Linked DNA regions of Homo sapiens: all the other regions are linked to region 4. The links come from fine-mapping of genetic effects on gene expression. A gene starts in region 4. Each other region holds a variant in brackets. All regions are shown on one strand. Distances are between the middles of the regions.

The links. PIP is the estimated chance that this variant, and not a neighbour inherited with it, causes the effect.
Region 1: its variant is the best candidate, but not a certain one, in a credible set for the expression of ST14 in cerebellar hemisphere (GTEx, PIP 0.88).
Region 2: its variant is the best candidate, but not a certain one, in a credible set for the expression of ST14 in B cells (Schmiedel 2018, PIP 0.59).
Region 3: its variant is the best candidate, but not a certain one, in a credible set for the expression of ST14 in nasal epithelium (TOPMed, PIP 0.87).

What each region holds. Positions count from the first base shown.
Region 1 is chr11:130,206,361-130,212,417 of GRCh38, reverse strand. It overlaps ST14 (ST14 transmembrane serine protease matriptase), which reads right to left. Exons shown (of 19, transcript NM_021978.4): 17 at 3,734-4,008; 18 at 2,840-2,976; 19 at 2,056-2,756. The coding sequence ends at 2,595. Among named protein-coding and RNA genes, the nearest start is that of ST14, 50 kb to the right of the region's middle. RefSeq lists an enhancer at 2,309-2,808. The variant C/G (reference allele first, on the strand shown) is at 3,079.
Region 2 is chr11:130,543,961-130,550,017 of GRCh38, reverse strand. It overlaps the pseudogene BAK1P2. Among named protein-coding and RNA genes, the nearest start is that of ADAMTS15, 98 kb to the right of the region's middle. The variant A/G (reference allele first, on the strand shown) is at 3,707.
Region 3 is chr11:130,190,564-130,196,293 of GRCh38, reverse strand. It overlaps ST14 (ST14 transmembrane serine protease matriptase), which reads right to left. Exons shown (of 19, transcript NM_021978.4): 7 at 5,600-5,730; 8 at 2,006-2,145; 9 at 1,557-1,654. Among named protein-coding and RNA genes, the nearest start is that of ST14, 34 kb to the right of the region's middle. The variant G/A (reference allele first, on the strand shown) is at 3,829.
Region 4 is chr11:130,156,226-130,162,282 of GRCh38, reverse strand. It overlaps ST14 (ST14 transmembrane serine protease matriptase), which reads right to left and starts at 2,501. Exons shown (of 19, transcript NM_021978.4): 1 at 2,223-2,501. The coding sequence starts at 2,303. RefSeq lists an enhancer at 766-1,265 and silencers at 2,353-2,422, 2,503-2,622.

The DNA of each region.
Region 1 (6,057 bases), 50 kb before region 4:
GCTTCCAGGATCCCCCAAGGACCAAGGATGTCCTGCAAACTGCGGCTCTGGGCATCTGATGGAGCACCTGGTGATGCTGCTGCTCCGTGGCACTTGGAATGGCATGACCCACTGCTAAAACGGTGCTCTCCAACCTCACAGGAACGCTTCTTAGAGCACAGGCCACTGGCCCCACCCAGCGGGCCCACCAGTTTCTGTTCAGGAGGTCTGGATGAAGCATGAGACTCTGCACCTATGAGTCCCAGGAGATCTCGATATTCCTGCCCAGGGACCTCCCGAGAGAAACACTGCCACAGACGACACGCCTTGTCCCACTCAGACCTCCCGCAGAGAGTCCCGGAAAGGGTGGGATGACCCTGAAGGCTAGCCATCTGTGTTTTCACCTGCTCCCCGGGTGGGAATCTGACCGGGGGGAGTGAGCAGTCCAGAACACTGTCAAGCCACAATGGAGCTGAGGGTGGTGCAGTGGCACGGGCTGGGCTGGCCTCCCTGAATCCCACTGCATGGATGACCATGTCTACACCCCGGCCAAGCCCCGGCTGCCAGGCTCACGCACACTTAGGAACCAGACCACACACAGGCCTCGTGAAACCTCTCCATTTAACATAGACCATTCCCTCAGCGCCTGCACTGGGCACTTCTGTCCGATGCGATCAGGTGGGAATGACCATGTCAGGGCAGAAAAGGAATGACATTTACAACACGCACAGGAGTCCTTCAGCATCATCCTCATTCTACTTCCCACGCCTTGGTAAGAACAGATGTTCTTTCCCTCCCCAGGGAGGAAAATGCGACAGATTCTCGCACAGGTTCTAGGCAACACTCCCTCCCTCAAAGAGGTAAAACACTCAGGCTAAAATGAAAGAGGCTCTGCAAACCCCACCTCCCCCGAGAAGCCTTGCAGTGTTGCTCCAATCAGACTATATTTCCTCCTTTTTGTTTCCATAACTCATGGCAGGCAAAAAACCATTCATTGAACAAACACATATCAGCATGTTCTAAGACAAGCCTGAGCTGGGGACATAGCGGTGAGCCAAGGCTACCTTCTGCCCTCCTGACACTGGCCATGTCATTTCTCTCCCCAGGTCCTCTTCCCTGCCCCAAGCCCATGTGGCGCATCAGCATACAAGAAGCCCTCAAATGTTCCCCCAAAAGCTCCCTAAGCCTTCCCCAGATTGTTGACATTGTCCCTTCAGGCCACCAAGCAAGAAGAGAGGAAATATTTTAAATTATTAAGTAAAAATCTAGGGAGGCTGGGGGTGGTGGCTCAGCACGAGCCCAACACGGGAAGATGACTTGAGCCCAGGAGTTCGAGACCAGCCTGGGAAACATAGTGAGACCCTGTCTGTACAAAAAAAAAAAAACAACTTAGCCAGGTGTGGTGGTGGGCACCTCTAGTCCCAGCTGCTCAGGAGGCTGAGGCAGGAGGATAGCTTGAGCCCAGGAGACTGAGGCTGCAATGAACTGTGATCATGTCACTGCATTCCAGCCTGGGTGACAGAGCAAGACCCTGACTCAAAAAAAAAAAAAAAAGAAAAAAGAAAAAATCAAGGGGGATGGCACGGGAGGTGTGGGTGCCCTTCAGCCAGGCAGCACCCCTCCTCCAAGGCCTTGGGACCCATCTGCTCAGCCTTCACTAGAGAGACAGCCAGGTCTTCATGCCCAGACTCACATCTGTCCCCGTGAGTGTGTGCGCTCACAGGGCCACCTCCCCACCAAACACGAAGCCACGCTTCCGCCCATCTTCCTCTGACAAAGCTCCTCCCTCTCCTAGGTTGGACCCAGGCCTGGGCACCAGTGCACCCCCCAACATTCGTCTCCCCACCTCGCCAACCCGCATTTCCCTCCTACCAGGGCACCAGGCCCCTGGTCTTGGAAGCTACAGGTCAGAGCAAAACCAGCCCCTTGCTGGCCTAGAGAAGGCAACGGCACTGTGGGCCCCACCCAGCCTGACTCCAGGGTCTGTGCTGAGGGGAATGTACATCCAATTTCTTGCAAATCGAGTAGGAAAAAGGAGGAAGGAGGGCGCAACTCCAGTAGGAAAAGAAACTTACCTAAAAAGAAATAAAATGTTTTACTCATTTACACAAATACACACACTGAAGTCCACCCTGGGAGCTGGTAAAACAATTTCAGTCTCAGACCCGTCTGTTTTCCAGGGTCCTCCGAGCCTGGGCTTCCTCAAGAGCGTGGCCCAAGGGCCCCACAGCCCAGATCCGGCAGCCCCACCACCTTCACTGAGGAGGCCCCGAAGCTCCGTTCCCGCTGCTCCTTAGAGACAGGGGAGGCAGATATGCACAAACGCGCCTCGGCCCAGCTTGGGGCTGGCGGGGGAGGCTGTGTCTTCAAACCTTTGCCCCCAGTTGGGTCAGTAGAACCACCAGTGTCCTCCCCTTCTACCTCCCAGCTCCACTTTGGAGGCTGAGGAAGCGAGAGGTTTTCTAGGCAGATTTGGAGCCCTGGAGATTGAGTTCACAGTGTATGTTCTGGGGGCGCTGGTGCAGTCAGCGGTCCAGTCTCCAGCCTGCAGGCGTGCACACTGGGGTGGACGATGGGTGGCCCCGCAGGTGTACACATTTGGGTGGCCCCGGCCCCTATACCCCAGTGTTCTCTTTGATCCAGTCCCGAAACAGAGGGAGCCTTGTGTACACGCCTGGCTTGTTCCTCTGAGCGCAGCCGTCTCCCCAGCTCACCACACCGGCCTGGAAGATCCGCCCATCCGCCTCCACGCTGGACAGGGGTCCCCCGGAATCACCCTGGGCGGAGACAAGCCCTGCCGTGAGTCCCCAGTCCCGCCTCTCCCGGGGCCCACCTGCCGCCCTCCTGCCCCGGGGGCCACCTGGCAGGAGTCCACGCCGCCGCTGAGGAAGCCCACGCACATCATGCGCGGCGTGATCTGCTGCGGCAGGAGGTTCTCGCAGGTGGTCTGGTTGATGACGCGGATCTCACCCTTTTGCAGGATCAGCGCGCCAGTGCCTGGGGAGAGGGCAGGACGGGGCTGAGAGCCGGGCTGCTTCGAGGGCAGCGTCATTCGAGACGCTCCCCACGGGTCATTGGACTAGAAAACTCTGGAACAGC[C/G]CAGATGCCCGGGGCTGACAAACGGGTAATCCGCGTCTACTCAGTGGGCTCTGGCAATAGCAGCCACCTAGAGGAAGCAGGGGCATGCTGAGATCTGCCAGGCGAGTTGAGAGGGAACAGACGCCGTGGCAAGCAGGGGTGAGGGAACAAGAAGCAGAGAGGCGGAGGGAAGGCGCCGCAAATGCCCGCGGGGTTCTGTGAGGGCATTGGAGCTGTAAGTCCTGTTCGTTTTCTTTCCTCTCCAAAGACGACAAATGTTCAGCATATGCTGTACAGTGGATTCTTTCAATCTAGCATTTGCCAACTAACGGCCTGCTTCCCTTCATACCCACCCCCTCACGTGCCTTAAGCACCACTGGGCTTAAGGTGTTGCTATCTTCATTACGCGCATGCACAAACAGGATCAGAGCTTAAGCAACTCGCTCAAGGTCACTCAGCTAGTTAGGGGCAAAGCCAACCTTCAATCCTGAGCCCAGGCTGCAAATCCCATGCCCCTTTTACTAAAGGCCTCCATTCCGCCCTGGACAGCCTCATTCTGCCAGGCAGAGGGAGACTGGAGCAGCCCCCCGCCCCGAGACCGGACACGCAGAGGAAACACGGCCTTGGAGAAAGGCCCCAGGCCCTCTGCGGAGCCCTAGGTCAGCCCGAAGCTTACCTCCATACTGGGTGTGTCCCCAGCCCGTGACCCAGATGGCCTTGCCGGCAGGGAAGACATGGGAGGCGTCCGGCAGGCAGATGGGCCGCACCATGGAGCTGTACTCTGCCGGTTTCTCCAGCTCCAGCAGCGCGATGTCATAGTCGAAGGTGAAGTCATTGAAGAAGGGGTGGGAGATGATGCGCTTGAGCCTGCGCTCCTGCACCCCAGGGGCGCTGCGCTGGCTCTGGTCGTGCAAGCCCAGGAAGGCCGTCCACTGCGTGGGGTCTGAGTACCTGGTAGGGAGAGCCGCTATGAGACTGCGCGGTCACTCGGGTCTGTGCACACGGCCTCGCGGCCCCGCGCGTTCCCAGAGGATTCCGCATGGATGAGGCACAGCTGCTGCTACGAGAAGACGATGGGGCCGGCTCTTACTTGGTCTTGACCCTAAGCTAGAAACTACTAAGTGCCTCCAGCTGCAGTATGAAATCCCTCTTGAACTCTTTACCCCCCCTTCCTTGAATACATTTTTAATCTGATGACCAAAAATTAGTTATCTTACGAACCTGATCTTTCACAGGAGGAATAACAGAACAATCAATCCAAATAATTTATTTATTTATTTATTTATTGAGACTGAGTCTCGCTCTGTCACCCAGACTGGAGTGCGGTGGTGGCATGATCTCGGCTCACTGCAATCTCCACCTCCCGAGTTCAAGCGATTATCCTGCCTCAGCCTCTTGAGTAGCTGGGATTACAAGTGCACACCACCACACCCAGCTAATTTTTGTATTTTTAATAGAGACGGGATTTCATCATGGTGGTCAGGCTGGTCTCGATCTCCTGACCTTGTGATCCGCCCGCCTCGGCCTCCCAAAGCGCTGGGATTACAGGCGTGAGCCACCACGCCCAGCCCAAATAAATTTTTAATGTAGTGCTATATAACCTAAGACCAAAATGAATTGAAAAATATGTTGTGTTGTGTCTAAGTTTGTTGCTGGCTATGGAATAGGTTTAGCAATTCAGAAGCTTTTCCACGTGCACTGCAGAGCCGGAGCCCACCCCACTGGGGGGAAAGGGAGGCACAGATGTGGAATGAGATCAGAGATATCAGGAAAGGTTCATGGTTTTTATTTTATTTTATTATTATTTTTTGAGACGAAGTCTCACTCTGTCACCCAGGCTGGAGTACAGAGGTGTGATCTCAGTTCACTGTAACCTGCACCTACCAGGTTCAAGCGATTCTCCTGCCTCAGCCTCCCGAGTAGCTGGGACTACAGGCATGTGCAGCCACGCCTGGCTAATTTTTGTATTTTTAGTGGAAACGGGGTTTCGCCATGTTAGCCAAGCTGGTCTCAAACTCCTGACCTCAAACGACCAGCCCACCTTGGCCTCCCAAAGTGCTGGAATTACAGGCATAAGCCACCGTGCCCGCTGGCTCACAATTCTTAAAAACTGGCCTAAAACCAATACTGTCTCCAGCAGCACCCAGAACTTAGTGTCTAAATATCCTTCTCTATTGAAAGGAACCAGGGCTCCTTGGAAAAACAGCTGATTTCGGATCTGGGGCTTAATGGGAAGCATAAAGCAACCTGGAACATTTTGTTTCTGCAGGAAGCGATCGAGCACTCAAACAGCAATGCGGCCTCACAAAGCTGGCTAAAGTTAGGACAATAAGAACCCCGAAATAAGTGGTGACAGGGTGACACTACTACACAGGTGGAATAATAAAAAAGGGTGGGGTAATCCATCAGTCCACCCTGAGTCTAAAAAGTAATTTCAAAAGAATTTATACAGGGAAAAGGAAAGCTATTCTTTACAGAGAAAAAGCAGCCCCTGGCCGGGCATGGTGGCTCACTCCTGTAATCCAAGCACTTTGGGAGGCCGAGGTGGGTGGATCGCCTGAGGTTAGGAGTTCAAGACCAGCCTGGCCAGCATGGTGAAACCCCGCCTCTACCAAAAACACAAAAATTAGCCAGGTGTGGTGGCCGGTGCCTGTAATCCCAGCTACTCAGGAGGCTGAGGCAGGAGAATTGCTTGAACCCAGGAGGCAGAGGTTGCAGTGAGCCAAGATCGCACCACTGAACTCCAGCCTGGGCAACACAGTGAGACCCCACCTCAAAAAAGAAAAAAAAAAAGAAAAGAAAAGAGAAAGAGAAAGAAAGAAAGAGTGAGCAGCCCCTAAATGCTGAAGAAACGGTACAATAAGGAACCACATTCGCGCCTGCCACAATAATAATCAACAATGTGAGAATCACCAACGGACGCTGAGACGCCGGGCAAAGTACGGCTGGAGAACGAGACACTCACGCTGATTCAAAGAATCACCTGCAGTGTAGTCACGA
Region 2 (6,057 bases), 390 kb before region 4:
AGGTATACAGGCTGCCCATACTAATTCAGTTCATGTCACCTTCTACTTTGCTCTTGCAGGCAAAACTCTGAACTCTCAAAGCCAAGAGAAGAAAGAGGGCACCCAGTCCAACCTCTACCTCTAGGAAAGTCCTCGCCCAAATTACCCCAGAGAGATTATTAGATCCTGCCCTTAAGCATTGTCAAAGAGCACTTGGCAGCTTCTCCAGGCATGTGCTGTACCATCTTCCGAAACTGAATTACACAGGGGTTCTCTATGTCATACACCAGGAAGCTACGCATGTAAGAAAGCCTGGGCTATACCTTCAGTGCTTTGAAAACTGACTCTGACTTGCAGAGAACACTGGGCTTTGGGCGCCTCCCTTGGGCAGTGGCAGCTTCTTGGATAGAGACCAGAACAGGAAATGAAAGATTTCCATTTATTTCAAGACCCTTCTTGGGCATCTTTTCCACTGCCATTTGTAGCTGAGCTGATTGAGAAATCAGGGTAGTCAAGTTACAGATGTAGCCACTGGCTGGGGATCAACCTAGACTCATGATCTTTTGGGGTCATGAGGTGAATGGAGAAGACTACTTTCCCTATACTTGGTCTATGTCCATGAACTCCAGACTTTAGGGGAATTGCTTTATATTAGCCAACTTAATGTCTAAAGTGCTAAATAAATAAACAGGTAATCTCTGGGGCCAAACTGCCAAAAGTAGCTCATACCTTCCTGCCTCCTAGAAGCCCTTTCAAAGAGGACATCAACAAACAGGTCGTTAGGAAAAAGCAAAATGTGGCTCACTTTGCAAATCTCACTTTTCCTTCAATGCTTCTTTGTCCCTATGGATTTCAACTCACTCCATTTGACATTCTCAGTTCCTTTGATAAGAAGTTCTTAGAAGCTTATGGCAACTCAGACCCGCTGAATCTGGAGGCAGGTCTGTAGGAATTCTGGTAATTAGTTAAACAACCTTGAACAAGTTGTTTCACTTCTCTGAGTCTCAGTTTCTCACTCAAAAATGGTGAATAATTTGTAAGACTTCGCTAATAATCTACGACTCTACAAGAGGCAATAGGGTACTGTGGACAGAGAGCAGGCTTTGGAAACACACAAGACTGGGTTTAGATTCCTGCACTCCACCCAGTGTGTGACTTGGCCAAGCTTCTTCACTTCTCTAAACCCCCATCTGTGTATCTGTACAGGAATGAATGAATGAGTATGTGCAGCCAAGCTATGCAAACTCCAGGTTAAAATATTGCCTTGGGTTTTTTAGTAAATTGTTCAAGCCCATGACATTCTAGCAGAAAAAGCCTAGTGTCTCTTTCTTAAGGTGATTGTGTCCATGTGTTTTCCAGGAACTCTAGGGTTTACTCAACCCAAATTCACCCTGCCCTTGACCAAATGGCTCACCAGCTTCACGGATGCTGCTCTGATGACACACCCTGCAGTCAGCATCTGCCCCTGCAGCTAGAATGGATTTCTGAGTGGGCATTAGCTGGGGGATACCACATGGGCACCAATGTCACAGATCTTCTGTCACAGTCCACCCCGAACCATTGCTTCTCAAATCATAATCCCTTAGCAGGACAGCTAGGTGCAGCACGCATGACACAAACACCAGCCCTTGCCTACAATCTCAGCCACTATCTTGAGTCTGAGCAACTAGTCTAGTGGCAGCCGCGCCCTTCCTTTTCAAGAGAGTTCTGGGATCAGATCCTTTCACAAACAGATCCCTCCCCACCTGCCTGTTGTCCAGGTCTGCACACTGAAAAGTAAGACAGCATTTGCTAAGCCATATTTCAAAAAGTTTGCTTATACCTTCATCTCAGGACAACAAGTGCCTGCTTAAGAGCCTTATGTTTGTGTAACTGGTATTTTTTTTTCCCCTGACCTTCCAAGGCCTAGTCTACTTTCTCCCTCCCTAGCTGAACAAAAGTGAAGTTGAAATAATTTGAACTACCCCTTTTAGTGGGCAGCCCATTTGATTTTTACCTTAGCCAGAGCCTTAATTTGTCCATGTGAGCATAGCAGTACCTTGCAGCACCTGAGGCACAATACATTGTTTAAAGAGTGACAGTGCGTCCCATTCCAATAAGAACCACACTCAGAGCAAAGGTTCCCTCGCCTGTGTGGAGAGTGACCCATGGTAGAAAATTTGCAGACTTCGTTACCTCTTCATCAGTTGAAAAATCTATTTATTCATTTATGCATTTAATTTTCCCTATCTAAGCCAGGGATAGTCAAACATTTTCTGTAAAGGGCCAAGTAGCATGATAAATATGTTAGGCTCTGCAGGCCACTTACAGTTTTGTCATGTATTCTTTTTTGCTCCCTGTTTGTATTATTTTGTTTACAATGCTTTAAAAATGTAAAAAAACAGATGATCACTGGAGTCTCACGGGTCCCTCGGGCCACACAGGGACAAGCAAAGGCTACATCCAGATACCAGAAATGCACTGACGCCCGTTCCTGGAAGCTGGGCTCCCACTCAGCCCCTGGGAGCAGCAGCCTCCAGCCCCTTGGGACCTTCAACTCCACCCTGCTGACCCACGCGGGTTGAGCCAGCATCCCTGGAGGCTGACACTGTCCTCCACTGAGACCTGAAAAATGGCATCGGGGCAAGGCCCAGGGCCTCCCAGGCAGGAGTGCGGAAAGCCTGCCCTGCCCTCTGCTTCTGAGGAGCAGGTAGCCCAGGACATGGAGGGGTTTTCCGCAGCTACGTTTTTTACCACCATCAGCAGGAACAGGAGGCTGAAGGGGCGGCCGCCCCTGCCGACCCAGAGATGGTCACCTTGCCCCTCCAACCTAGCAGCACCATGGGGCAGGTGGGACGGCAGCTCGCCATCACCAGGACGACATCAACCGGCACTATGACTTCGGAGTTCCAGACCATGCTGCAGCACCTGCAGCCCACGGCAGAGAACGCCTACGAGTACTTCACCAAGATCGCCTCCAGCCTGTTTGAGAGTGGCATCAACCGGGGCCGTGTGGTGGCTCTCCTGGGCTTCGGCTACCGTCTGGTCCTACATGTCTACCAGCACGGCTTGACTGGCTTCCTGGGCCTGGTGACCCGCTTCGTGGTCTTCATGCTGCAACAAGGCATCGCCCGGTGGATCTCGCAGAGGGGCGGCTGGGTGGCAGCCCTGGACTTGGGCAATAGTCCCATCCTGAACGTGCTGGTGGTTGTGGGTGTGGTTCTGCTGGGCCAGTTTGTGGTAAGAAGATTCTTCAAATCATGACTCCCAGGGGTGTCCTTTGGGGTCCCAGCTGTGACCCCTGCCTGGACTTAAGCCAAGTCTTTGCCTTCCCCACTCCCTTGCAGGGGTCACCCTTCAAAAGTACAGAAGCTCTAGCAAGTGTGCACCCCCGCTGCGGAGGGCCCCTGCGTGGGGGCCAGTCAGGCTGCGGAGGCACCTCAACATTGCACGGTGCTAGTGGGCCCTCTCTCTGGGCCCAGGGGCTGTGCCCTCCTCCCTTGGCTCTCTGGGACCTCCTTAGTCTTGTCTGCTAGGCGCTGCAGAGGCTGATAACTTGGGGAAGCAAGAGACTGGGAGCCACTCCTCCCCAGTAAGTGTTTAACGGTTTTAGCTTTTTATAATACCCTTGGGAGAGCCCATTCCCACCATTCTACCCAAGGCCGGGATGTCTGGGGTGTGGGGGTTGGTGGGTCTACACTACGTGCCCCAGGATTCAGCTATTCTGGAAGATCAGAGCCTAAGAGCT[A/G]GGACTTGATCCTGGTCCTGGCCGTCCCTAAGCATCATGTGTCCCAGGAGCAGGACTGACTGGGAGAGGGGGACCAAGGTCCTACCCAGCTCTCCCCGTGCCCCCATTCCTCCCTCCGGCCATACTGCCTTTGCAGTTGGACTCTCAGGGATTCTGGGCTTGGGGTGTGGGGCGGCGTGGAGTAACAGGCCAGAGCTGTCTGAACTTATGTGTCAGAAGCCTCCAAGCCTGCCTCCCAAGGTCCTCTCAGCTCTCTCCCTTCCTCTCTCCTTATAGATACTTGCTCCCAACCCATTCACTACAGGTGAAGGCCCTCACCCCCATCCCTGGGGGCCTTGGGTGAGTGATGCGCTAAGGCCCCTCCCCGCCCAGACTACAGGGCTTGGTTTAGGGCTTGGTTTGTTATTTCAGGGATAAGGAGTAGGGAGTTCATCTGGAAGGTTCTAAGTGGGAGAAGGACTATCAACACCACAGGAATCCCAGAGGTGGGATCCTCCCTCATGGCTCTGGCACAGTGTAATCCAGGGGTGGAGATAGGGAACTGTGAATACCTGAACTCTGTCCCCCGACCCTCCATGCTCCTCACCTTTCTGGGTCTCTCCTCAGTGTGGGGGTGAGAGTACCTTCTCTATCGGGCACAGCCTAGGGTGTTGGGGGTGAAGGGGGAGAAGTTCTTGATTCAGCCAAATGCAGGGAGGGGAGGCAGAAGGAGCCCACAGGCCACTCCCTATCCTCTGAGTGTTTGGAAATAAACTGTGCAATCCCATCAAAAAAAAAAAGGAGAAAAAAATGTAAAAAACATTCTTAGCTGTAAGCTACTTATAGGGGGATAAAGACAGGACTGTTAATGGACACAAACATACAGTTAGAGAGAAGAAATAAGTTCTGTCCAGGCGCGGTGGCTCACACCTCTAACTCCAGCACTTTGGGAGACCAAAGTGGGAAGATCATTTGAGTCCAGGAGTTCGAGACCAGCCTGGACAACATAGCAAGATCTTATCTCTACAGAAAATTTAAAAAAAAGAAAAAAACTAGCCGCACAGGTCTGCAGTCCTAGCTACTCGGGAGGCTAAGGTGGGAGAATCCTTGAACCCAGGGATTTAGTTTGAGGTTGCAGTGAGCTATGATTGCACCACTGCACTCCAGACTGGGTGACTGAGTGAGACCCTGTCTCAAATATAAAGAAGGAACAAGTTCTAGTTTTCAATAGCGCAATAGGGTGAGTGCAGTTAGCAACAACATATTGTGTATTTCAAAATAGCTAGAAGAGAGGATATGAAGTGTTCCCCAAACAAGGAAATGATAAACGTTCGAGGTGACAGATACCTTAAATACCCTGATTTGATCATTACACATTCAATGTATGTATCAAAATATTACATGTACCCCACAAATTTGTGTAAATATTATGTATCCACTTTTTAAAGTTGGCAGAGCCCAAAAGCACTACTATGGCTTCCAGTGGTCACTGTGAGCACTGCCAGCTCAGCAAATGTATCACCCAAAATCTGGGCAATGTGGGAAATTGGCTTCATGGCAGCTATGGCTTTGCCACTGATAGGAATGATTTCCAGAGATACTTAATCCTCAATTCGGGACTCTTTGCTTCAGGAGTTTGGCTGGCCAGGAACATGAGTGACAGTGACCTCTTGGCACTTCAGCTGGGGGTGTAGCCAAGCAGACAAATGGAATCTTGTGCTGAACCCAAACCTTCTAGAAACAGAGCCTGTGAGCATCACAAGATATGCCCTGATGGAAGCTGAAGTTTAATTCAGCTGAGCGCTTGCCCCTTTCCAACCTGGTTTCTTTTTGTTCCTTGAGTCCAGTCAGAATGCCATTCCCTGGCCAGCAGCCAGCCTTTAGTGACTGTCTCTGTTCTGCAAAGCTCTGTATATAGTTACTGAGTTTCTGCAGGGGGTGATCTTTGCTCTTGTCCTAAGAAATAACTACAGTGTTTTAAGAAATATTTGAGGCCGGGTGCAGTGGTTCACACCTGTAATCCAGCACTTTGGGAGGCCAAGGCAGGTGGATCATGAGGTCAAGAGTTTGAGACCATCATGGCCAACATGGTGAAACCCCATCTCTACTAAAAATACAAAAATTAGCTGGGTGTGGTGGCGGGCACCTGTAGTCCCAGCTACTCGGGAGGCTGAGGCAGGAGAATCGCTTGAGCCTGGGAGGCGGAGGTTGCACTGAGCCGATATCACGCCACTGCACTCCAGCCTGGCGACAGAGTGAGACTCCATCTCAAAAAAAAGAAAAAATAAATAGTTGAAATAAAGACTGCACATAAAGACAAAAAAAAAGTTTATAAAGTTAAAAAATAAAATAAAAAACAGGCTCCAGGCTGG
Region 3 (5,730 bases), 34 kb before region 4:
TCCCTGAACCTGAGGACGTCAAAGGGAGGCAGCGGCATGGACCAGGGAGAGATGGTATGCCTTCCATCACCAAGACAGGTTGCAAAGTTCTCCCAGCGTGTTTGTTTGTTTGTTTGTTTGTTTGTTTGTTTTTTGAGATGGAGTCTTGCTCTGTCGCCCAGGCTGGAGTGCAGTGGCAAGATCTCAGCTCACCGCAACCTCCGCCTCCCGGGTTCACGCCATTCTTCTGCCTCATCCTCCTGAGCAGCTGGGATTACAGTCACAAGCCACAACACCCAGATAATTTTTTTTGTATTTTTAGTAGAGATGGGGTTTCACCATGTTGGTCAGGCTGGTCTCAAACTCCTGACCTCAGGTGATCTGCCCGCCTCGGCCTCCCAAAGTGCTGGGATTACAGGCACGAGCCACCACACCCAGCCTCTTTTCTTTTTTTTTTTTTTTGAGACAAAGTCTCACTCTGTCACCCAGACTGGAGTACAGTGGCAAGATCTCAGCTCACCACAACCTCCGACTCCCGGGTTCAAGCTACTTTCCTGCCTCAGTCTCCCGAGCAGCTGGGATTACAGGTGCCCGCCATCACACCCGGCTAATTTTTGTATTTTTAGTAGAGACAGGGTTTCACAATGTTGCCCAGGCTGGTCTCGAACTCCTGACCTCGTGATCCACCTGCCTTGGCCTCCCAAAGTTCTGGGATTACAGGCGTGAGCCACTGCGCCCGGCCCTCCTGGCATTTTTAAAGAAAGGAAAGGGAGGCAGCTCTGGCTGGGATGGCGTGAGCGGCACGGACAGGCGACTCTCTTGTCTCACACACCTTCTTTGATTTCTTCCTGACGGCGCCTCTGAGACCCAGGCACTATCACCCTCACTTCACCTAGGGGCAAGCTGAGGCCCAGGGAGCTTCAGCAACTGCCCAGGTCGTTCCATCACCTGACAAGGAGCTAAGATAAGAGTCTGGGTCTGCCTGACACTGCAGGAAGACCTGACCCCACCCTGGGCCCTAAGACACATGGTCTCTTTGGGGTTTGTTTATTTGTTTTTGTTGTTTTTTGAGACAGGGTCTCACTGTTGCCCAGGCTGGAGTGCGATGGCACTGTCATAGTTTACTGTAGCCTTAAACTCCTGGGTTTAAGTGATCCTCCCACCTCGGCCTCCTGAGTAGCTGGGACTACAGGCATGTATCACCTGCCTGGCTAATTTTTGTAGTGTTTTGTAGAGATGAGGTCTCACTATGTTACACAGGCTGGTCTTGAATTCCTGGCCTCAAGTGATCCTCCTGCCTTGGTCTCCCAAAGTGCTGAGATTACAGGTGTGAGTCACGACATCTGGCTGCCTCTTTGGGGTTGATAAAGGATCTCCTCTTCCTTTTCTTCTGTCTTCCTCATTTGCCATCCACCTCTGTCTCACACACACACATACGCACACACACACACACACACACACATGCACACATATGCAAACACATGCACACACATCCACACACATCTGCACAGGGAGACACACACACGTGCACATACATGCTCACACACACACACGTTCACACGCCCCATAGCTCCTACCTCAATGTTCCATGTGCAGTCAATGTTGGGTGGGTAGTGGCCTGGGTAGTAGGGGCTGTTGAATGTCCCCTGGGCTTTACGTAAGCGGCCTCCACAGCCTGAGAGGGAAGGTGGGAGAAAGCAAGAGGATCAGGAACCTGCCCGGCCGAGCAGGCGGACGAGGGCTCTGCAGCCTGAGGCCTGGAGCTGCCTCCTGGACGCGTGGATGCTGCACAGCAGGTGCACAGCCAGGAAGGCCAGGTGCCGGGTGCCGAAGCTTCAGGAGGGCTCCTGACCCAGGCGGTCGGCCAGATGCCTTTGGCTCAAGCTTCAGCCTCTGCTGCTGACCTAGGCCAGCTCGCCAACCACAGGGTCTAGCCTGTGGCCTCCTAAGCTCAGGTCACCCCCACTAAGGCCTTCCCCTTCTCTGTGGCCCGAGGGCAGTCCCGCCCTGCCCTGCCCTTCCTTACTGCTCATCCTAGGCAGCTGGAAGAAGGTGGCCTCAAAGCCGGGATGCCGCCGCTCAGTGTTGGTTATCAGTGTGATGAGCAGGACGTTCTGGGAGGAGTGGAAGGTCAGGTTGTAGGAGGGAGGGTAGGTGCCACACAACCTGTGGGGGCAGAGGGCGGGCATTAGGAAGAGCAGACAGAACCCAAGCTTCTCACACACCCAAACCAGGCTCTCAGGCAGAGGTGCCTGAGGACCCCACCCCTAACTCTGGTCCCATCCACAGAGGCCAAGAATGGAGTCAAAAAGACCTTCATTCAAGTAAGTCCCTCCCCCACACAATCACTGATGGAAGGCGCTAGTGATAAACAGTTCACCTTTGTCACAATCACTGATGGAAGGCGCTAGTGATAAACAGTTCACCTTTGTCACAATCACTGATGGAAGGCGCTAGTGATAAACAGTTCACCTTTGTCACAATCACTGATGGAAGGCGCTAGTGATAAACAGTTCACCTTTGTCACAATCAAAGAGCAACACCCAGCCGGGCGCAGTGGCTCACGCCTATAAACCCAGCACTTTGGGAGGCCAAGGCGGGTGAATCACCTGAGGTCAGGAGTTCGAGACCGGCCTGGCCAACATGGTGAAATCCCATCTCTACTAAAGATACAAAAATTAGCTGGGCATCACGGTGCACGCCTGTAATCCCAGCTACTCCAGAGGCTGAGGCAGGAGAATCACCGGAACCCGGGAGGCGGAGGTTGCAGTGAGCCGAGATCGCACCACCGCACTCCAGCCTGGGCGACACAGCGAGACTGTCAGAAAAAAAAAAAAAGAGCAACACCCTAGACACAATACATGCCCACAACAGAGGATTTATTAAATAAACTGTGGGCTCAATCAGAACAACAGCAGTAGTAACAATCAACATTTATTAAGAACATGCCAAGGTCGGGCCTATAATCCCAGCCTGTTGGGAGGTCAAGGCAGGAGAATTGCTTGAGGCCAGGAGTTTCAGACCAGCCTGGGTAACGCCTCATCTCCATAATCAAAAAAACTAGCTGGGCATGGTGGCGCTTGCCTGCAGTCCCAGCTACTCCGGGGCAAGGCCAGAGAACTGCTTGAGCCTCAGGAGTTCAAGGTTACAGTGAGCTATGATTGCGCCACTGCACTCCAGCCTGGGTGACAAGGAGACTCAAAAAAAAAAACATGCCTGGCATGGTTCTCGGTGCTTTTAAATCTATTAACTCATAATCTTCCTAACAGCTCTATGAAGTAGATACTATTACCCCTATCTCAGAGGTGAGGAAACTGAGACACAGAGATGTTCAGTAACTTGCCCAACATCTCATGGTTAATAAGTGGCAGGCTTAGAATTTAAACTCAGGCATTCAAGCTCCAGAGTCCACACTGCTCACAACCATGTCATCCTGATTGTGTCCCCTCCTTCTAAACAATGCAACCTTATAAAAACCCTGAGAGAGAGGGTGACTGATTTGGAAAGACCATCATAATATACTTCATTTGTTAAAGCAGGTAATGAGACTGAATGCACGGGATAATCCTATTTCTTAACACACACACAGCAAAAAAGGCTGGGAAAATAGACATCAAAAATTTGGCCGGGTGCTGTGGCTCACGCCTGTAATCCCAGTACTTTGGGAGGCCAAGGCAGGCAGATTGCCTGAGGTCAGGAGTTCGAGACCAGCCTGACCAACATGGTAAAACCCCATCTCTACTAAAAATACAAAAAAAATTAGCTGAGTGTTGTGGCGCATGCCTGTAATCCCAGCTGCTCGAGAGGATGAAGCAGGAGAATCGCATGAACCCAGGAGGCGGAGGTTGC[G/A]GTGAGCCGAGATCTTGCCACTGCACTCCAGCCTGGGCGACAGAGCGAGATTCCATCTCAAAGAAAAAGAATTAACAGTGGTTATTTCTAGACAGTAAGATGACGAGTGACTTTAGTCTTCCTTTTGCTTGCCGATTTCCTTCTCCCACTGGGAACATGTACTTCTTTGTTGTACAATTAATAAATTAGAGAGATGGAAAAGAAGTCCTGGTTACGAAGCTGTGGCGGCAGATGGTTCTAGGTTGTTCTTGGCCTGAATTTTAGCCCATTATTAATCAGGAAACGTCCGCCGAGCTCATTTCCCTAGACAGCCACGGAAGGCTCTGGCCCAGCGAGTGCAGGAGAGGCGGCTCACCCACCACGCACAGCACCTCTGCGAGGTACGCCCCACCCTGACGTGGGGTATCCCACAGGTGCATTAACCACGCCTTTCCGTTTTCTGTAATGCAGGTGCTTTGACATCTGAGGCCCTGCTGACTGTGGAAGGCTGGCCAATGCTTAGAGATAGGAAAGGACTCACCTGCAAGCAAACCTTCCCTATGCAAACCCACCTATGGGGGCCCAGCCCCACCTCCTCCGAAAGGATCTCACACTCAGGGCCACTATTCTTTGCCCTAACCACCCCAGGCCCAAGTATCAGAGAACTAGGGACAGCTCCTATGCCCCGGAGCCTACTGAAATTATTCAAACAAGCCAGTTCTAAACCTCTCACCCTGATTTGTCTTGCCTTTTCTGTGTAAACCATATAAAGGCTCTTTTTTTTTTTTTTTTTTTTTGAGACAGAGTCTCGCTCTGTTGCCCAGGCTGGAGTGTAGTGGTACGATCTCGGCTCACTGCAACCTCTGCCTCCCAGGTTCAAGTGATTCTCCCGCCTTGGCCTCCCGAGTAGCTGGGATTACAGGCGCCCGCCACCACACCCAGCTGATTTTTGTATTTTTAGTAGAGACAGGGTTTCACCAGGTTGGCTTGACTGGTCTCAAACTCCTGACCGCAAGTGATCCAGCCGCCTTGGCCTCCCAAAGTGCTGGGCTTACAGGCGTGAGCCACCATGCCCGGCCCATAAAAGGCTCTTGCTTACATTTTCCCCTCATTCCTGTTACCCCTTGACCAACCTGGTGTTTCCTCATGTGGCCTGAGGCAGGTTCTTTCTCTGTTGCCCAGGCTGGAGTGCAGTGGTGCAATCACCGCTCACTGCAGCCTCGACCTCCTGGGCTGGAGATCCTCCTGCATCAGCCTCCTGAGTAGGCATGCGCCACCACACCCAGCTAAGCTTTTTATTTTTTATAGAGGCAGAGTCTTGTTGCCCAGGCTAGTCTCAAACTCCTGGCCTCAAGAGATCCTCCCGCCTCAGCCTCCCAAAGCGCTGAGATTACAGGCATGAGCTACCGTGCCCGCCAACAAAATTGTCTTTTCAAGAGCAGTCATCTCCTGATCTGTTGGCCTTCATATCCCTGAATAATAAAGCCTACATTTTACAACCGTGGGCAGTGCCTTCTCTCCGGCGGTTCAGGGCACAGGCCGCACAGGCTGGATTTGGTATCTGGGGACTATAGAGCCTTCCTCTGCTTTGCCAAGGCTGAGAAAAATCACCTCCCAGACTCCCCTGGAGCTGCAGCTGAGGATCACACCACACGTGCCTCCTGCTGCCTGGATGTTTAGCAGTGGCCTGCGGCCAAGAGTCATAAACTGTATCCCAATCGTTGAAGAAGCTGGCCCCCTACAGGGCAGCCGCCAAGCTCCCACAGCCCTACCCGCCCCCCGGGGTACTCACTGCACCAGGGCGTGGGGCTCCATGGGGCTCAGGGTGTTGTACACCGTCACCAGGTCGCTGCCGCGCTCGTCGCAGGACGCAAGGTCAAAGCTGCGGAAGGTGAGGCTCAGCACTGAGTCGGCGTCCCCCCG
Region 4 (6,057 bases):
TGCAGTAACGTGCATCAGGACTCTGAAGGCCACGCAGAACACTTGATGGGAACAGCAGGGGTGGGGCAGGGGCCACACCACCAGCCTTGGGAAGGGGACAGCCAGATACAAATACCACCAAACAAGGGTGCACGGATGGATGCAACTGGGGACAAGGAACCCAGAAACAACAGCACCCTGTGGGCCAGGCTCTGCTGACCCAGATAATAAACCCAGGGGCAGCAGCCACACCTCCCGGCCGGGGATGGACATCCTAGCTGCAAACACACACTACAGGGTGATCCCAGGGACTGGGATTTCTGGTGAGGCCAGGGATGGGAGGAATCTGCAAGACATGGAAATGAGCTTTGGCCAATTTCCTCTGGACACTCCGCCTCACAGCTAACTTTGGCATTCGTCTCTTAGTTTCGCTCTCAAGACTGGATGTTCTTTAAAGGAAACAACCACATCTTACTGGTCTCTGAGAGCCTTCCCTTCACCCATGGGACTAGGTACTGAGTTAGTTCAATAAAGCTCGGCAGGAGAAAAGACAAAGAGCAAGCCAAGAGAATGAAAATGGCAGAGGGGGAAGGAACAGCCCAAGGGCGCAGAGAGCAAATGAGCTTCGCAGAGGAGGAGGAAATGAGCAGGGATGGGGGAAACTAAAGCCAGGGCTTGCAGGTGACAAGACAAGTCCGCTGAATGTGGGATCCTGGGGGTGAGTGGAAGGTGAGCCCCAGCCTGGCTGCTTGTCAGGTGGTGAGATGGCTCAGAGAGGAGGCTGGACCACACGACCAGGAAGACCCTGCTTTCCCCGTGTGGGCAGGAGAGTCCTAGAAAGGGAAGTCAGGGAGAACAAACTTGGGGTGGGGGCACCGGACTGCCCTGAAATAACAAATTCCAAACAGCAGGTTCTCTGCTGAAGAGGCAGGGAGTCTAGAACCCCAAGTAGGCAATTAGCAAGGACACAAACATAGCAATTACAGCAAGGAAGAGAAGGTGAATCTGCCTCACAGCAGGGCACAGGCACAGCCAGGGGAAGGGCCCAAGCCTTCAGGTCCACTGGAAGCTTTCCTCCTTGCTGAGGGTGAAAAGTGGAGAAAATAGCAGAGCCCAGCCCCAGGTCCTGTCTGTGGTGCAGGCAGCCTCCAAAGCCCCAGCGTCTGATTTTCTGCAAGCTCCCTAGGTCGGGATGCTGCTTGGACAAAAGGAATTGATCTGAGACAGCACCAAAATCAGGCCTGACTTAGGGAGCAACGGCGGAGACTATGGAGCCCAGGGGCACCCGGAAGGAGGGGAGAAAGTGAGGGTTGGCAGGGCAGGGAGGCCATCATTTGCAGAGGAGCAAAACTCTCTGCCACACAGCCCCTGCCTCTCAGCGCCGCCCTGACCTGGTATGCCCTGGCCTTCCAGGAAACCTGGGGGTCTGCCTTGGACAGAGAGGGTAGAGACCTGGCTGCTGGTCCCGCCCGGGCACTACCACCTAGGTGGGTCCGTCAATGAAGTGACTAGCGACCCATCCCCAACTCCATACAGGAACATGTAATCTTTTTGAGATCTTTCAATAGGTCTTTCATTGTTCTTTCTGCCAAAGAAGAGCTTCCTGTTTCGGTACTTCGCAAAAGGCTCAAGACATGTGTGTTCCCACATCCCTTCCCATACAGCCGCCTTCCCAAAGGGCTCCATCCCCTCTCGAGAAGCCCAGGCAAGCCCAACTCTGGAGTTCTTAGCTCCAGCCCGTATGGCAGCCAAAGCCCTGGCCTCCCAGTTGTCCTCTGCGAGGTCCCAAAGCGCCTTTTGACGGGGAAGGAGAGAGACGAAAGAAACTTTCTGCAGAGGCCAAGGATGGCTGAGACTCCAAACCCTCCTGAAATTTCACTTCCTCCCAAATAACCCCACTCCAAGCCCCTGGTTTCTTCCAGATGTTCACTAACAGCGCGAGAGTCATGGAGGGGCCGAGACGGAGCCCCTTTTTTCAACTCAGGGAAAGAAAGGACCGAGGGCGCAGGAAGGCCCAGGGGCTTCCCGCCTCCCCCTGGCGGGGCGCAGCCGGTCCGGTACCAAAGGTCCGGCCAGCCCCGCCCGCCCGCGGCCCGGCACCCGCTGAACAGGAAATTCCACCTGTGCGCCCAGAGCTCGGCCACCGACGGACACGCCAGGGGAGCCGGCCGAGCCCAGCGCCGCGCTGCAGGGTCGGGCGGGCAGGAGCTTCCCAGCGCCCCGGGTCCCCGGCCCGCGCTCACCTCGTGCCGGGAGTTGTACTTGAGTCCCGCGCCGAAGTCCTTCGGGCCCCCTCCGCCCTTGCGGGCCCGATCGCTCCCCATGGTCCCCGAGGCCGCTCGCGGGTCTCACAGGCGTCGTCCCTGCCGGCGGCCGGCTCCCATGGCCCGCAGGGCGCGGGGCGCGGGGCGCAGGCGGCGGGATTCCGGGCAGGCCCAGCGCGCCCGACCGGCGGCGGTGCCCTCGCCCTGGCGCGCTCTCTCTCCCTCTTCCTCTTTCTCCGGCTGCAGCTCCGCTCTCACACTCCGGCCCGGCCCACGCAGGTAGTTTCAGGGTGTGGCCTCGGCCCGCCCAGCCCGCCGCGCTCGCCTGCGCACCTGCCCGGCTCACCTGCCCGCCCCCGCCGGCCCTGGGGGAGGCTCCTCCCCTCGGCTCTGGGCCTGAAGGTGAGGGGGCCTCACTCGGGTGGTGGTCGCTAAGGCCCTCACCATCACCACGACGGCGTTCACCACCCCTCCGGCCCTCCAGGGGCCCTGCCCCGGGAGGGCAGCCCTTTATCCACCTCCTTGATGCCAACCATCTTTTCCCTCCTCCCTCATGCGCCTCCGGTCTCTCCCCTTCACCTTGCTCACTTTGCTACAGGACTAAATCGCATTTATGAACCCCCCAAAACCAAACAGAAACCAGAACCGCCCCTGGCCCAGGCTCCCCGTCGGCTACGCAGCCTCCTGTTCTCCAGGCGGGAGGCGCTTGCTGGCCTGCGCCCGGCTACCCTGGGGAGGCCCAGTGACATGAGCTGTGCCACCAGATGCCCTCTGAGCCATCCCAACGCCCCTCGCCCACTTGCAGCATCTGATGCTTCCTCAAATGCCCCCTTTCCCTGGATTCCGGTCCTCCTTTCTAGTCCTAAATGTCATGATTCCCAAAGTTCTCCCTTCAGTTTCATCCCTTTCTTCTCTAAGCTTTTTCTCTTGGCAGCACGTCTCATCTTACGACTTCAGACAGGAAGACCTCCCTCCCAGCACAGACACCACCAAGGAGTGCCAGTTCTGCCTTAGCGGTCGCCTGGGGACGTCTCCATTTATGTTCTACTGTATTCTGTAGCCAATGAACATTACCAAGCACACACTAGGCGCTAAGCACTGTCCTGGGTACAGGGAAACAGGAGTGAACAAAATAAAAATCCCTGCTTTGAGATCAACAAGCCCCATCTTCCTTCCCTGACTTGCCCATTTTCCACTGTTTTCTCTAATTCTAATGGCAGCATTCTCCCAGGCTCAAATCCTGGAATCATCTTTGATTCTCCACCCTGCTTACATCTCATATCCAATTAGTTCCAAATCTGATCAAGACTCTGCTGACAAGCATAGCCCTTCCATTCCTGCGCATTAGAAGACCGCTATTCGAGTCCTCAGAGCCCTTTGCCTGGTTAAGAAAGATCTCCTGCCTCTGGGCTGCCACCCTCTGATCTCTCCTACACAAAGCAGTCAGGTAAATCTGAAACCACAGCTCCTTTATGACTTTCCGTGTCTCCCGGATCAAATCCAACCTCCTTAGCCCAGCTTCACACTCTGCCCTGTCCTCCCTTAACACCGTGCCTCCAAGCATTCCTGTTTGGAGCCCCTCTCTCCAGCCAGGCGTTCTGATCTTGGCAGCTTTCATAAAGCTTTTCATCCCCTGGAAGCTCTTCTCCTTCATACTCCTTCCGCATATTGGGTCGAAGACACCGATGGGGTTTTTTAGTGTTGTTCATTGAATGTTTTTAGCTCTCTGCCTTCTGGGCACAGGCCAGGGTGTTACTCTCTCTTCTCTGAAGTTAGGTATGGCAGTATGGCTAGCGGTAACCAAGAAAATGTCCAATGAGAGGACACACCACTTGTACATAGCAGCATAAGGAGGCACTGCACAATGCCCTGCTCTCTTCTGAGAGGTTTAACTCTGTGACCTGTGACCCTAAGTGGCTACAATGACACACACTGGATATGTAGCATGAATGAGGAGTCAGTCAGCTTTTGGGATGTTAAGCCACCGAGAGCTGAGGGTTGTTTGTTATTGCTGCAAACCTCACGCTTCCTGACTGATATGCTACCTCCTCCCCAGGAGTTTCCTTCCCTCTCAACCAGAACTAGCTCTGTTTGTACCTCTCTCATGGAGCTCACCACCATTTCGTTGCATTTTCTGTCTGTGTCTTAACTGCCTTTGCACCCTCAAAGCCTAGCACAATGACTAACACAATATATTGGGTCAATTTAATTGAAAGAAGAATGAATCTGCTGCCTTCCATCACATAAAGCATTCCAAAGCTAAACAGAAAATATTTCTAAAAGGCTGGCACGTTGGCTTCCAGCACTTTGGGAGGCTGAGGTGGGTGGATCACCTGAGGTCAGGAGTTTGAAATCAGCCTAGCCAACATATAGTGAAACACCATCTCTACTAAAAATACAAAAATTAGCTGGACATGGTGGTGCATGCCTGTGGTCCCAGCTACTTGGGAAGCTGAGGCAGGAGAATTGCTTGAACCTGGGAAGTGGAGGTTGCAGTGAGCCGGGATCATGCCACTACACTCCAGCCTGGAGCGAGACTCCATCTCTCAAAAAAAAAAAAAAAAAAAGAAAAGAAAAAAAAGAAAAAGAAAATATATAAAAATAAATTTTCCTTTGGATTACCAATGGCACAGCATTCTTCAACTAGTGTGAGTGATGGAAAGTAAGCCAAATTCAATGTGACGTAAATGAGATGGTACTCCTGACACACAGACCTTCTGTGCTGCTGCAAACGCAGTGACTCACGTTGTCTCCCCACTTCCTAGGGCCTCATCTTTTATCTCGTAGAGCTGGGCGCTCAGCGTGATTTGGATGCCGTATGAATGCAATGCATTGACTGCTAGTGCAGATGAAGAGAAAGCGATGCAGGACAAGACCCTTCCCCTAGGATGGCTGCATGGGGATACCTTGCTGCATGCACCCTATGTGCACTCCTGGGTTGGAGGAGGCAGTGTAACCATATGTTATTCCATGAATCCCATTTGGTTTAATCCTCAAAAAATTATGAAATGTCAGTGCTTTTGTTCCTAAATGGTAAGTGAAGGAACCCAAGAGCAGACAGCCTCCAGAACAGGACCAGATTCTCACACTCACAAGGAACAAATCCAACTCAAGCCCAGATTTTGGCTTGAGGTCCGTGTCATTTCTCTGCTATAGAAAGAGTGACTCATGACCAAATGACCCAACCTTCACCACCCACTGTGCCTTCTCCACCACCCCCTCACTGGCCCTTCCCCGGCCCCAGCACTGCAAAGCTGTCATCGCTCCTCTCCAGGGAGCCATCCTCTTCCTGGTTCCAGGACTGCCTGCTGGGAAAGTTACATCTGTGTCCCTGGGACCCCCTCAAGGGCATGTCCAACAAGCCCCTATGTCCTTGTGGCCGGGACCACTTAGAAGGTGTGCAAATGTGGACCTGCCCACAGGCTAAAGGACACTGGCTGAAGCTGGTGACAATGTGGGAGACAGTAGGGCCATGTGAGGTAGGCCCAGCCCAAGTGTGAAACAGCCAGTGCTCTGGTACCATCCAAGGCGGGGAGACCAGAGCAGCTTGTGCCAGGCCTGCAGGCGACTCATGCTCCTTCAATAAAGAAGAAAAGTGCAAACAGCAAAGAGGTGTGGTAGAGGTTGAGAATGAACAGAATAAAGTCAAATGAACCGGTTATGGAGCTGGCATCCATAAATGTACCTAAACCTTCTGAAACAACAAGGTTTATATGAATTCGACACCTAGAACCACTTCTGCTTTTGTCTTGGCACAGCCCTCATGCTTCCCTGTCAAACATGCTTCATGGGGAAAATGCACTTTCTAAACGCC